Homo sapiens: one gene and its partners. The protein of the gene in region 2 purifies or fractionates together with the protein of the main gene of each other region. This does not show direct contact. Each region holds a gene or a part of one and is shown on either strand. Other genes may lie near its edges.

Region 1 (3,724 bases), on a different chromosome or scaffold from region 2:
CCCTTATCCAGCCTATCCCCTGGCCTGGTGAGGGGAGGGTTATCTGCATGCTGCAACAGACCCTTCAGAGCCCACAGGTGGCAACAGGACATGAGGCAGTCCCTGGGTCCCACATTCAGCTCTCAGCCAGCCACTTGGAATTGGGGCCCCTGCCCTTGGGGTGCGTGCGCCTGATTTAGGAAAAGGCAGCGTGGTTGGTGATCCCTGGGATCGAGAGAACAGGCAGTTGGGGTCTGCAATTAGTGGAGAAAGTGGGACTAGATGGCTGGAAAAGCAGGCCCTTCTGTGGGAAGAAGGGCATGGAACGAGGAGTGGACAATATGCCCAGTGCCGACTCTTCTCACCACCTGCTGTGAGCCTCAAGTTTCTTCCTGACCTCGTGATCTGATCTGCCTACCTCAGCCTCCCAAAGTGCTGGGATTACAGGCATGAGCCACTGCGCCCAGCCCAAGCCTCAGTTTCTTTATCTGCAAAAAGGGAACGTGCCCAGCAGCCCTCAGACAGCAGTCCGAGGAATCCGTGAGCACCTGTGTTTCCATGAAAGCACATTTGTAAAGAGCAAAGGCTGGATTGGGATTTCGGCAGAGCATTTGTGGGGGCCTCTGCACGTCATCCACAGGCCTGACGTGTCGCCCGCTTCTCTCTGTCTCCAGACTCCGGCTATCTGTTCAGCGGTAGCCGCCCACCATCTCAGGTGTCTCGATCTGGGGAGTTTCCTGTTTCAGGTGAGGAAGACAGAGAGCTAAGTGGGGGACGGGGCAACATGAAGCCCGGGCGTTCCAGAGCATGGTGGTTTGTGTGAGCTTTGGGGTCAGACAGACCCCAAGTGTGTGTTCACATCTCAGCCCTGGGCAAGTGACCTACACACCTGTGCCTCAGTTTCCTCTTGCGTGAAATGGGAATGACAGTCTCTAGGATCAGATGGTACCATGCTGCTCTGCCGTCCTCAGTGGCAGTCACGGCTGGAACTGGTGCACCAGGTGCCAGCTGGCAGCAAGGCCTCGGGTGAGCTGGCCTTGTACCTCCAGGGTTTGCTGCTATCTGGCCTTGCTCTCAGCTGATGGTACCCAGGGCTTTGGATGGAAATCAAGGGCAGAAGGCCATGGCTGAGGCTCCGGGATCTCTCCTCTCCCTCAGGTGCCTGGTAGAGGGCACCTCTCCTCCTTCAGCTTTGCAGCAGGACTTCCCCCTGTCCCCAGTCTCTGCACCTTTCCTGTCTTCCCGGGTTAATAGAAGAATGCCCCCAGAAATGAAATAGCGCATTGTAGCGTTGCAGTGACAGGAGCCCACGTTCACATCATCTTCCTCCCTCCCTCCAGATTACTTCTCTCTTCTGTCGGGGAGCTGCCCCTCCTCCCCACTCCCTTCCCCAGCGCCTTCCGTGGCCGGCTCGGTGGCCTCCAGCTCCGGCTCTCTGCGCCACCGCAGGCCCCTCATCAGCCCTGCCCGGCTCAACCTGAAGGGACAGAAGCTGCTGCTGTTCCCGTCACCCCCTGGAGAGGCCCCCACCACGCCCAGCAGCTCCGATGAGCACTCGCCTCACAACGGCAGCCTCTTCACCATGGAGCCGCCCCATGTTCCCCGGAAGCCGCCCCTGCAGGACGTGAAGCACGCCCTGGGTACGGCCTTCTGACCACCCCAAGGGGCCGTGGGAGGGCCTCTGCTGCCAAGAGGCCTGGCTGTGCGGCGGTGGGGGGGCTCATCCTTGCTCTGACTCCGGTGTGCGCCTTCCCACCCTGGAGCTCTAGGCACCCCATTCCGGCTCTGGTGACTTGAACCCTCTGGGACATTGACCTCTAATGGCTGATTTCAGTTTCTCCTTTTGCAGTTGACCTTCAGGGTCCTCTGTTTCTTGGAACTGATCGAAAACACATCACGCATTGCCAGGTGCGTGTGGCCACAGATAGTTTCACTCAAATGGTGCTGTACTGCAAAGCATTTAAAATGTTTATAGTTAGCCCCCAGCCTTTAAAACCTACAACTTTCAACTTTCACATGAATTTGTAGATTTCCTTTTTTTTTTTTTTTCGAGATGCAGTCTCACTCTGTCGCCCAGGCTGGAGTGCAGTGGCGTGATCTTGGCTCACTGCAACCTCCTCCTCCAGGGTTCAAGAGATTGTCCTGCTTCAGCCTCCCGAGTAGCTGGGACTACAGGTGCGCGCCACCATGCCTGGCTAATTTTTATATTTTTAGTAGAGACGGGATATCACCATGTTTCCCAGGCTGGTCTTGAACTCCTGATCTCAAGTGACCCACCCATCTTGGCTTCCCAAAGTGCTGGGATCACAGGCGTGGGCCACTGCGCCCGGCCTCGAATGTTTAGATTTCCCACGTCTCTTTCAATGTCAGAGATCTGGTCACCTTGGGCCTGAATACTGGCAGACAAGAGGTGGCAGGACAGTTGAGCAAGGACCTGGCCCCCCACTGTCCAGGGTGGATGAGTGGCTTGGGACAGCCTGGCTCACCACTTCTGACAACTGTCCTTAGAGTGGAAGTACAGCTGCCCCGCGTCTGTCCCTGGAGGGAGCCATGAGCGCCACTGAGAAACACACCCTTCTCTCTGCAGACCTGAGATCCAAGCTGGAAAGAGGCAGTGCCTGCAGCAACCGCTCCATCAAGAAAGAGGACGACTCTTCCCAGTCATCTACCTGTGTGGTGGACACCACCACCAGGGGCTGCTCGGAGGAGGCCGCCACCTGGAGAGGTCTGTACCCTGAGGTGCGGGAGGGGAGGGGGTGGGCACACATCCGAAGCCACCATCTCCCCCAGGGGGGTCCAGAGCACTGACAGAAAGAATCTTCCAGGACATTGCAGTCCCTGAGTGGCCGACAAGTAACCCACCCGGCGCCTCTGAATCCAGGGTCAGGGACTCAGTAGACGGCACTCCCCCTCTCGGGATTTGGGCCCCGATCTGCACTATTCCAGTAGCTTCTGGCCCCAGGCAGCTATTTAAATTAACTGAATTAAAATTAAATAAAGTTTGAAATGTAGTTCTTGAGCTGCACTAGCCACATTTCAAGTGCTCAGTAGGCACCTGTGGCCCGTGGCTGGCATTTAGGACACATACCGAAGGCTGCCATCCTGGCCGGAAGTGCCCAGAGAGCCTGGGTGCACCGGGACCACGTCACGCTGGGGCTGCAGCCTGCACCGGGTGCCGAGCTGCCTGGCTCAGATCCCAGGTTCTCTGCTCACTAACCCTGGGGCTCAGGGGCAAGAGACCAGATCTGTGGTACACATCATCACTCCCTGGGTGGGGAGGAGGGGGTGTGTGTTGAGGGAGATGGACAGATCAGCAAGCAGGGCTTTTCCTGGGCAGGTCATTTTGCACTGACTCTCAAAGCCAGTGCTGCCCCAGGCTGGAGGGTGGCCCAGCAGCTTGGAGGCCTTGGTGAGAACGCAGGCTGCGGCATGCAGCAGGTGGACCTGGGTTGGCTGCTTATTCCCTTGGAGGCCTGGATGGGGTGCTCCTGTTCCCAGCCCCCATGACCTCATCTGTAAAGTGGCCATTGTGGTCACTGCCTCATCACCCAGGCCCCAGCTCATGACAGCCCAGCCCATGGCCTTCCTGGCGGCTCAGGGTTAGGAAAAGCTGTGCCTTCAGGGAGGCAGGGAGTGGGGGTCTTTCCTGCTAGGGAAGCCTTTGGCCAAGAGAAGAATTGGGGGTGAGCCTCACCAGTCTCAGAGAGTACCCTGGGCAGAGCCTTGAGCTCCCCACAAACTGCAT
Region 2 (3,500 bases):
AACGTGATGCCTTCAAAGGAAGCACATAAAAGTCCATCTTAGCTGATGTCACAGTGAGACTTACTCAAGAATCCAAGGCTCCCCACCTCTAATCACAGCAGCACCCTGATAAGCTCACTGCAAGACCCATCTACAGAGGCATTTGATCACACTGTCTCCCAGACATTCTCACCAGTCTGTAAGGTCCTTGAAGGCAGGGACTGTGTTTTATTCATCATTGCACACCCAGCCATATAAACAGCACCTGGCACATAGTATGCACTCAATAAATGCTTATGACGAACTAAACCTTACCCTTGAAAACCTGAACAGAGCGGGGAGAATGCATATACCTACAAAGCTATAATTATATATAACATAATGACAACCTACATTTGGTCTTTTAAATATATGATTCTAGAGACTACAGAAAATATTAACTAAACGTTTTATTTGAAGAAACCAATTAAATCCCAAGTCTTAAATATAATAAAATATTAACAATGACTAATTGTGGATATTTGAGTGTTCATTATATTCTAATTATTCCTTTTTTATTTTTAAAAGCTAAAATAAAAATCCATTTTTACTATACAGGAAAATTTCTTCTTTTAGTTTCAACCACGAAGACCCATCACTCTAGGCCAGGCTTTCTCAGCTTTGGCACTAGTGACATATTGAGCCAAATATTTACTGTGGGAGTTGTCCTGTGCATTGTAGAAAATTCAGCAGCACTCTTGCTTCTACTAACTAGACGCCAGCAGGACCACTTCCCCTAGATGTGACAACCAAAAATATCTACACATTGCCAAATGTCCCCTGGGGAGAGAGGGTACAAAACCACCCCCAGTTGAGAACTACTGCTTCGGGCCACAGCTAAAACCAAATGTCAGGTATGTGAAGGTTCCCTTGCCTTTCAGGGCCATGCTAACAGTCAGTGCCTGACTTTACCCTGGAAGGCAGCTGTGGTCTGATAAAGGCAAATGTGTTCTCATTCAAAACAAATACAGTTTTCTGTTCCATGCCTCAGTATGGCTACATACTTGTGGTTTGTGAGCCTGGAAGGTAAGGTAGCTTATCTAGAGGACAAGATAATATTCTTATATTAACACAGGATTGATATGTTCTTGGGACCATACAACCAAGCCATGAATTCCTTGTATCGAAAGTGCCAGAATACATACTATTTATTATGTATTTATTCTAAGACAGGGTCTTGCTCTGTCACCCAGGCTGGAGTGCAGTGGTGCGATCTTGGCTCACTGCAACCTCTGCCTCCCCAGTTCAAGCAATTCTCCTGCCTTAGCCACCCAAGTAAATTACAGGCCCGTGCCACCACACCCGGCTAATTTTTTGTATTTTTAGTAGAGACGGGGTTTCACCATATTGGCCAGGATGGTCTCAAACTCCTGGCCTCATGTGATCCTCCTGCCTCGGCCTCCCAAACTGCTGGGATTACAGGTGTGAGCCACTGCGCCCAGCCACAGAGTGATATACTATTTAAACACATCTCCTTCTACAGTAACTGAGACTGCTCAAAAAAGAGCAAAATCTGGCCAGGCGCAGTGGTGGCTCACGCCTGTAATACCAGCACTTTGGGAGGCCAAGGTGGGCAGATCACTTGAGGTCAGGAGTTCGAGACCACCTGGCCAACATGACCAAACCCCGTCTCTACTAGAAATATAAAAATTAGCCAGGCATGGTGGTGGGCGCCTGTAATCCCAACTACCCAGGAGGCTGAGGCAGGAGAATCGCTTGAACCTGGGAAGCGGAGATTGCAGTGATTGTGCCATTGTACTCCAGCCTGAATGACAGAGCGAGACTCCATCTCAAAAAAAACAAGAAACAAAAAGAGCAAAATCTGCTTAGTGTGAACACAGTGTAGTGTAATTTATATTAGAGAAACCATCTGCTTACAGGTACATAACAACGGTGGCCCCCATGACCATGAGGAATCTGCTCAGGGAGGAGTAGAAGTAGAGGATACTGAGAAAAACAGAAAATGTAGCTGCTGAATAGGTCCAATCCAACCAATCTCGATTTATTTCATCATCTTCTTCCACAATAGGGCCACCTTGTGCATTCATCCGCAAATTTTGATTGGCTCCAGGATTAACAACCACTTGAGGAGCAGCATTCTGATTGGCAGGCTGGTTTTCAGCTGGAAACTGGTTGTGAATAGGGGCTGGAGCAGGTGCAGAGACCACAGGTATCTCTTGTGCACTTGGTGGTGGAACAAAAGCCCCTGATGCAGCAGTGGCTGCTAAACTAAAATAAAAACGACAGAGGCAGATACTGTTGAGACCAAAGCACCGTGAAGTCTGTGGCTTATTTACACAGCAGTCTTTTACTGTTAAGAATTTCAAGTAGGTAGATATGCCTTTGATTTTTCTTCAATTTAGTGAAGAACTTCCTTACTAACTATATCTATAAATGCCTTTTCTAAGAAAAGCCACAAGGTGAATTTCACCTGAAATTAAACATCAAGCCCACTGTAAGATTATGGCACAGTAGCAAATTAAAATCCTCACAAAACTTTGAAGATAGCACAAATTGAAAAGAAAGTAACATGTTCTAAATAAAGTCACTAAACTATGTATCAGACAAAAGCACCCTTGTGTCAATACACAAATCAGGTAGCAGCTGTCATTTACACTCTACCCACAGACCAAACAGAGCAGGGCTCTGCAGACTGATGAAAATACACTCATCCCTCCATTCTGAACTTTACAGGTAACATGGATAAAATTCCCTTCAATTCCCGGGAGCCCTGGCCACACCCAGCATGGCGGGAAGGACTCACTATTGCATGTAGTACTGTCGTGCATATATCTGCTGGAACCAGGAAAGCTGAAGCCACCCATAGGGTGTGTAACCGGAGAAACCAGGACCCAGGCCTTGGAATGCCTGCTGGGCAGCTTCAGGCCTATACATAGATTTGAAAAAACACTCATTTTGAGTGGGTTGAGTATGAACAAATGAAAACTAAGTTTAAATTAAAATCAAGAATTCAAATCGAAGAGACAGAAGAATGGAATTTACGGCAGTTACATGGTAAATGACTGTATGACGCACCCATGTACCACAAGCACAGAAGGTACTAAATGACACAGCACTTCTACCACAGTCCCATCCCACAGGAAAACAACAGCCCTTGCCACCTGCTTGCTGAGTGCACAGATATATAAACAACCTTTTTGGGTTAAGTAGATCCCACCTCAGTTTTGACTTGTTGAGTCTCACTGCAGGTCTCAACCCACTGTTCATCTTTTAGAGAGCAGCTCAAAAGCCACATTTCTCCCAGTCTTTCCTGAAGGAAATCTCTCCCATCCTCCCAATATCCACTTCTTCCTCCATCCTCCATCTGAATCTATAGTGAAGTGTGCATGTGGTATCACCTGTGCATGCTTACTGACCACCGGGGGTCCTGTACAGGCTGCTGGGTCCACAGCAATCTCATGAAGGAGATTTTACAAGGGGAACCCAAGTACAGCTCAGGGAAGACAGGGGCTTTGCACAAG
Region 3 (3,724 bases), on a different chromosome or scaffold from region 2:
TACTGTTTTTGGAGAGACAGGGTCTCACTATGTTGCCCAGGCTGGTCCTGAACTCCTGGCGTTAAGAGATCTGCCTTGGCCTCCCAAAGTGCTGGGATTACAGATGTGAGCCACTGTGCCTTGCCAGCCCTGGAACTTTGAAAACTATGCACTGGCCAAAAAAAAAAAAAAAAAAAAAAAAAGCCGGGCGCAGTGGCTCACGCCTGTAATCCCAGCACTCTGGGAGGCCAAGGCGGGCGGATCACGAGGTCAGGAGTTTGAGACCAGCCTGGCCAATATGGTGACACCCTGTTTCTCCCAAAAATACAAAAATTAGCCAGGCATGGTGGCTCGCACCTGTAGTCCCAGCTACTTGGGAGGCTGAGGCAGAAGAATTGCTTGAACCCAGGATGTGGCGGTTGCAGTGAGCCGAGATGGTGCCACTGCACTCCAGCCTGGGTGACAGAGGGAGACTCCGTGTCAAAAAAAAAAGAAAAAAACATGCGCTGCCTGGGTGTGGTGGCTTACGCCTATAATCCCAGCACTTTGGGAGGCCAAGGTGTGTGAATCATTTGAGGTCAGGAGTTCGAGACCAGCCTGACCAATATGGTGAAATCCTGTCTCTACTAAAAATACAAAATTAGCCAGGCGTGGTGGTGCACGCCTGTAATCCCAGCCACTTGGGAGGCTGAGGTGGGAGAATCGCTTGAACCCAGGAGGCAGAGTTTGCAGTGAGCCGAGATCGCACCACTGCACTCCAGCCTGGGCAACAAGTGTGAAGCTCCGTCTCAAAAAAAAAAAAGAAAGAAAGAAAACTGTGCAGCTCAGTTCCTCCCTGGTCTCTGTTTCCATTTACTCCACGTCGAATCTTTTTGCCACCTGCAGGGTCTGCCTTCAGAGAATGTGTTATAAATGAATGCAAGTGCCTGCGGTGAGGAGGAGGCCAGTGCGATTCTTCCAGACTCGAGTTAGAAAGGAAAAGTAAATATTTATTGAGGTCTTAATGTGGTCTAGCTGGATTTGTGACATTTCTTATCTTTAATCCTTGGCTCCACCTGCTGAAGTAGTGGATATTACCTCTATTTTCCCAATCAGTAAACCATGGCTCACTTTTCTAACTTTCGTTTCACATTGATGAGCTGTAATTCTTCTGTGAAGAACTTTCCATCTTCCAGGACTAGTTTGTTACCTTGAAGTATGGTACGAGAAAGGCAGTTTAATGCTTAACTGTTCCTTTTGATGACTAATTTTCAGGATAGAGAGTTGGAGCTTACTCCAAATGTTGACCAGAGTTGAGGGTTTGTTTGGGGGTAGGGAAGGGGTTCTCTTTTTTTCTCCAGCATCATTGTGAACTTTTATGTGTTTGTCAGTTGCATGAATTATTCGTTTTCCTAGTCAAATTGTCCTGTCTTGGCCAGGCGCAGTGGCTCCAGCCTGTAATCCCAGCACTTTGGGAGGCCGAGGTGGGCAGATCACTTGAGGTCAGGAGTTCAAGACCAGCCTGGCCAACGTGGTGAAACCCCATCTCTACAGAAAATACAAAAATTTGCCAGGCATGGTGGTGCACGCCTGTAATCCCAGCTACTCAGGAGGCTGAGGCAGGAGAATTGCTTGAACCTGGAAGGCGGAGGTTGCGGTGAGCTGAGATCGTACCACTGCACTCCAGCCTGGGCGACAGAGCGAGACTCCATCTTAAAAAAAAAGAAGAAAAAAAAATTGTCCTGTCTTAGCCATTGGAGCCCTTCTGATTGGCTCCTTGCCCTTCTAGCACTGTGGGTCAGCGTTTCTCCCAGCGGGATGCCCGCCTTCACCTTGTGTACTTCCCATCCCAGAGCTGCAGTCAGCCCCTCCTTCAGGACTCCAGGTGCCGTTAGTGGGGAGCGGTATTTAGAGACACAATCCAGGTGCCATGGGTGCTTTTTGCTGCTGGGTGGTCATTGTTGTTAGGCCTTTACTGTGAAAAATTAGGAAGTACACACTTGGGGCAGCAGCAAAGAGTTCCTAGCAATTAGCGTCACTTTCAGTTGAACAGTCCAGATCTTTGCTGTTTTGAATTTCATATTTAGATCTCGTCGCTGGTATGCTTGGTTCCGCTCCTCGTTTCTTAGTTGCTTATTCTACCCGTTATTCACTGATGTTATTCTACTGTACACTCACTCATATAATTGCTTCAGAATGAGCATTCTCACAGCACAATTGCAACTGGAGTGCTGAGAAAAGGTTAGTATTTCTTTGCAGGCTGGGTGTGGTGGCTCACACCTGGAATCCCAGCACTTTAGGAGACCGAGGTAGGTGGATCCCTTGAGGCCAGGAGTTCGAAACCAGCCTGGCCAACGTGGGGAAACCCCATCTCTAGAAAAAATATAAAAATTATCTGGTGTGGTGGCGTACGCCTATAATCCTAGCTACTAGGTAGGTGGAGGTTGCAGTGAGCTGAGATCACGACACTGCACTCCAACCTGGGTGACAAAGTGAGACTGTCTCATAAAAATAAAAAAAAAGAAGAAGTCTGGTCATGATTCCTGTACTCTCCCTGTCCCCTCCCTGACCATGGATAACATTTCTTAGGCTCCTAGTTCACCTGTTCCATATTTTTGCAAATATAAGCAAATTTGCATGTATAATCACCCTCTGTCCTTATTACACACAGAGTAGCTTTTTATTTTATTATTTTATTTTATTTTATTTTATTTTTTGAGACGGAGTTTTTCTGTCTCCTAGGCTAGAATGCAATGGCATGTTCTCGGCTCACTGCAGCCTCCGCCTCCCGGATTCAAGCAGTTCTCCTGCCTCAGCCTCCCGAGTAGCTGGGACTACAGACACCCACCACCGCGCCCAGCTAATTTTTTGTGTGTTTTTACTAGAGGTGGGGTTTCTCCATTTTGGCCAGGCTAGTCTCAAACTCCTGACATTAGGTGATCCACCCACTTCGGCCTCCCAAAGTGCTGGAATTATAGGCGTAAGCGACCACGCCCAGCCCAAAAAGTAGCTTTTTAAATTTACAGGTCAGGCACAGTGCCTCACACATGTAATCCCAGTATTTTGGAAGGCAGAGGCAGGCAGACTGCTTTAGCCTCAGGAGTTTGAGACCAGCCTGGTCAACATGGTGAAACCCCGTCTCTACGTAAAACAAAACCAAAAATTAACCCGGCATGGTGGCACATGCCTGTAGTCCGAGCTACTTGGGAGCCTGAGGTGGGAAGATCACTTGAGCCCGGGAAGGTCAAAGCTGCAGTGAGCCATGTTTGAGCCACTGCACCCCAGCCAGCATGACAGAGCAAGACCCTATCTCAAAAATAAATATAAACATACAGTCATCCTTCCATATCTGTGGGTTCCACACTAGTGGATTCAGCCAACTGCGAATTGAAAATATATGGTAGAAAAACAAAATACTATAATAAAGAATAAGACATTTTAAAATAATACAGTATAACAATTATTTGTATAGCAGTTTTATTGTATTAGGGATTACAAGTAATCTAGCGATGATTTCAAGTATATGGGAGGATGTGCATGGATTACATGCAAATACTAAACCATTTTATAAAAGGGACTTGAATATCTGTAGATTTTGGCATCCGCAGGGGTCCCTAGAACCAGTCCTCCGTGGATACTGAAGGGGAGCTGAACTATTCTGCACCTTGTTCATTTCATCTCATCGTCCCAGAGAGCTCTTCATAACGACATAGAAGGCCTTTCTCATTTCTTGTACGGCTGTGTAATAGTGTCAGTGGGTTTCCTG

Evidence for each region.
Region 1: the proteins of HERPUD1 (region 2) and TMEM201 purify together in Homo sapiens (affinity purification with mass spectrometry, with the first as the bait; one large-scale study listed by BioGRID). This does not show direct contact.
Region 3: the proteins of HERPUD1 (region 2) and SLC35E1 purify together in Homo sapiens (affinity purification with mass spectrometry, with the first as the bait; one large-scale study listed by BioGRID). This does not show direct contact.

The regions. Positions count from the first base shown.
Region 1 is NC_000001.11:9,609,187-9,612,910, forward strand, and holds part of TMEM201 (transmembrane protein 201), read left to right. Parts: intron 1-653; coding exon 654-725; intron 726-1,319; coding exon 1,320-1,619; intron 1,620-1,828; coding exon of another isoform or gene 1,829-1,887; intron 1,888-2,032; coding exon of another isoform or gene 2,033-2,154; intron 2,155-2,566; coding exon 2,567-2,704; intron 2,705-3,724. UniProt on the Homo sapiens protein: Critical regulator of angiogenesis and endothelial cell (EC) migration. Promotes the migration of endothelial cells, which is essential for angiogenesis.
Region 2 is NC_000016.10:56,938,642-56,942,141, reverse strand, and holds part of HERPUD1 (homocysteine-responsive endoplasmic reticulum-resident ubiquitin-like domain member 1 protein), read right to left. Parts: intron 2,906-3,500; coding exon 2,783-2,905; intron 2,248-2,782; coding exon 1,897-2,247; exon of another isoform or gene 1,741-1,896; intron 1,277-1,740; exon of another isoform or gene 11-1,276; coding exon 1-10. UniProt on the Homo sapiens protein: Component of the endoplasmic reticulum quality control (ERQC) system also called ER-associated degradation (ERAD) involved in ubiquitin-dependent degradation of misfolded endoplasmic reticulum proteins.
Region 3 is NC_000019.10:16,562,273-16,565,996, reverse strand, and holds part of SLC35E1 (solute carrier family 35 member E1), read left to right. Parts: intron 1-3,724. UniProt on the Homo sapiens protein: Putative transporter.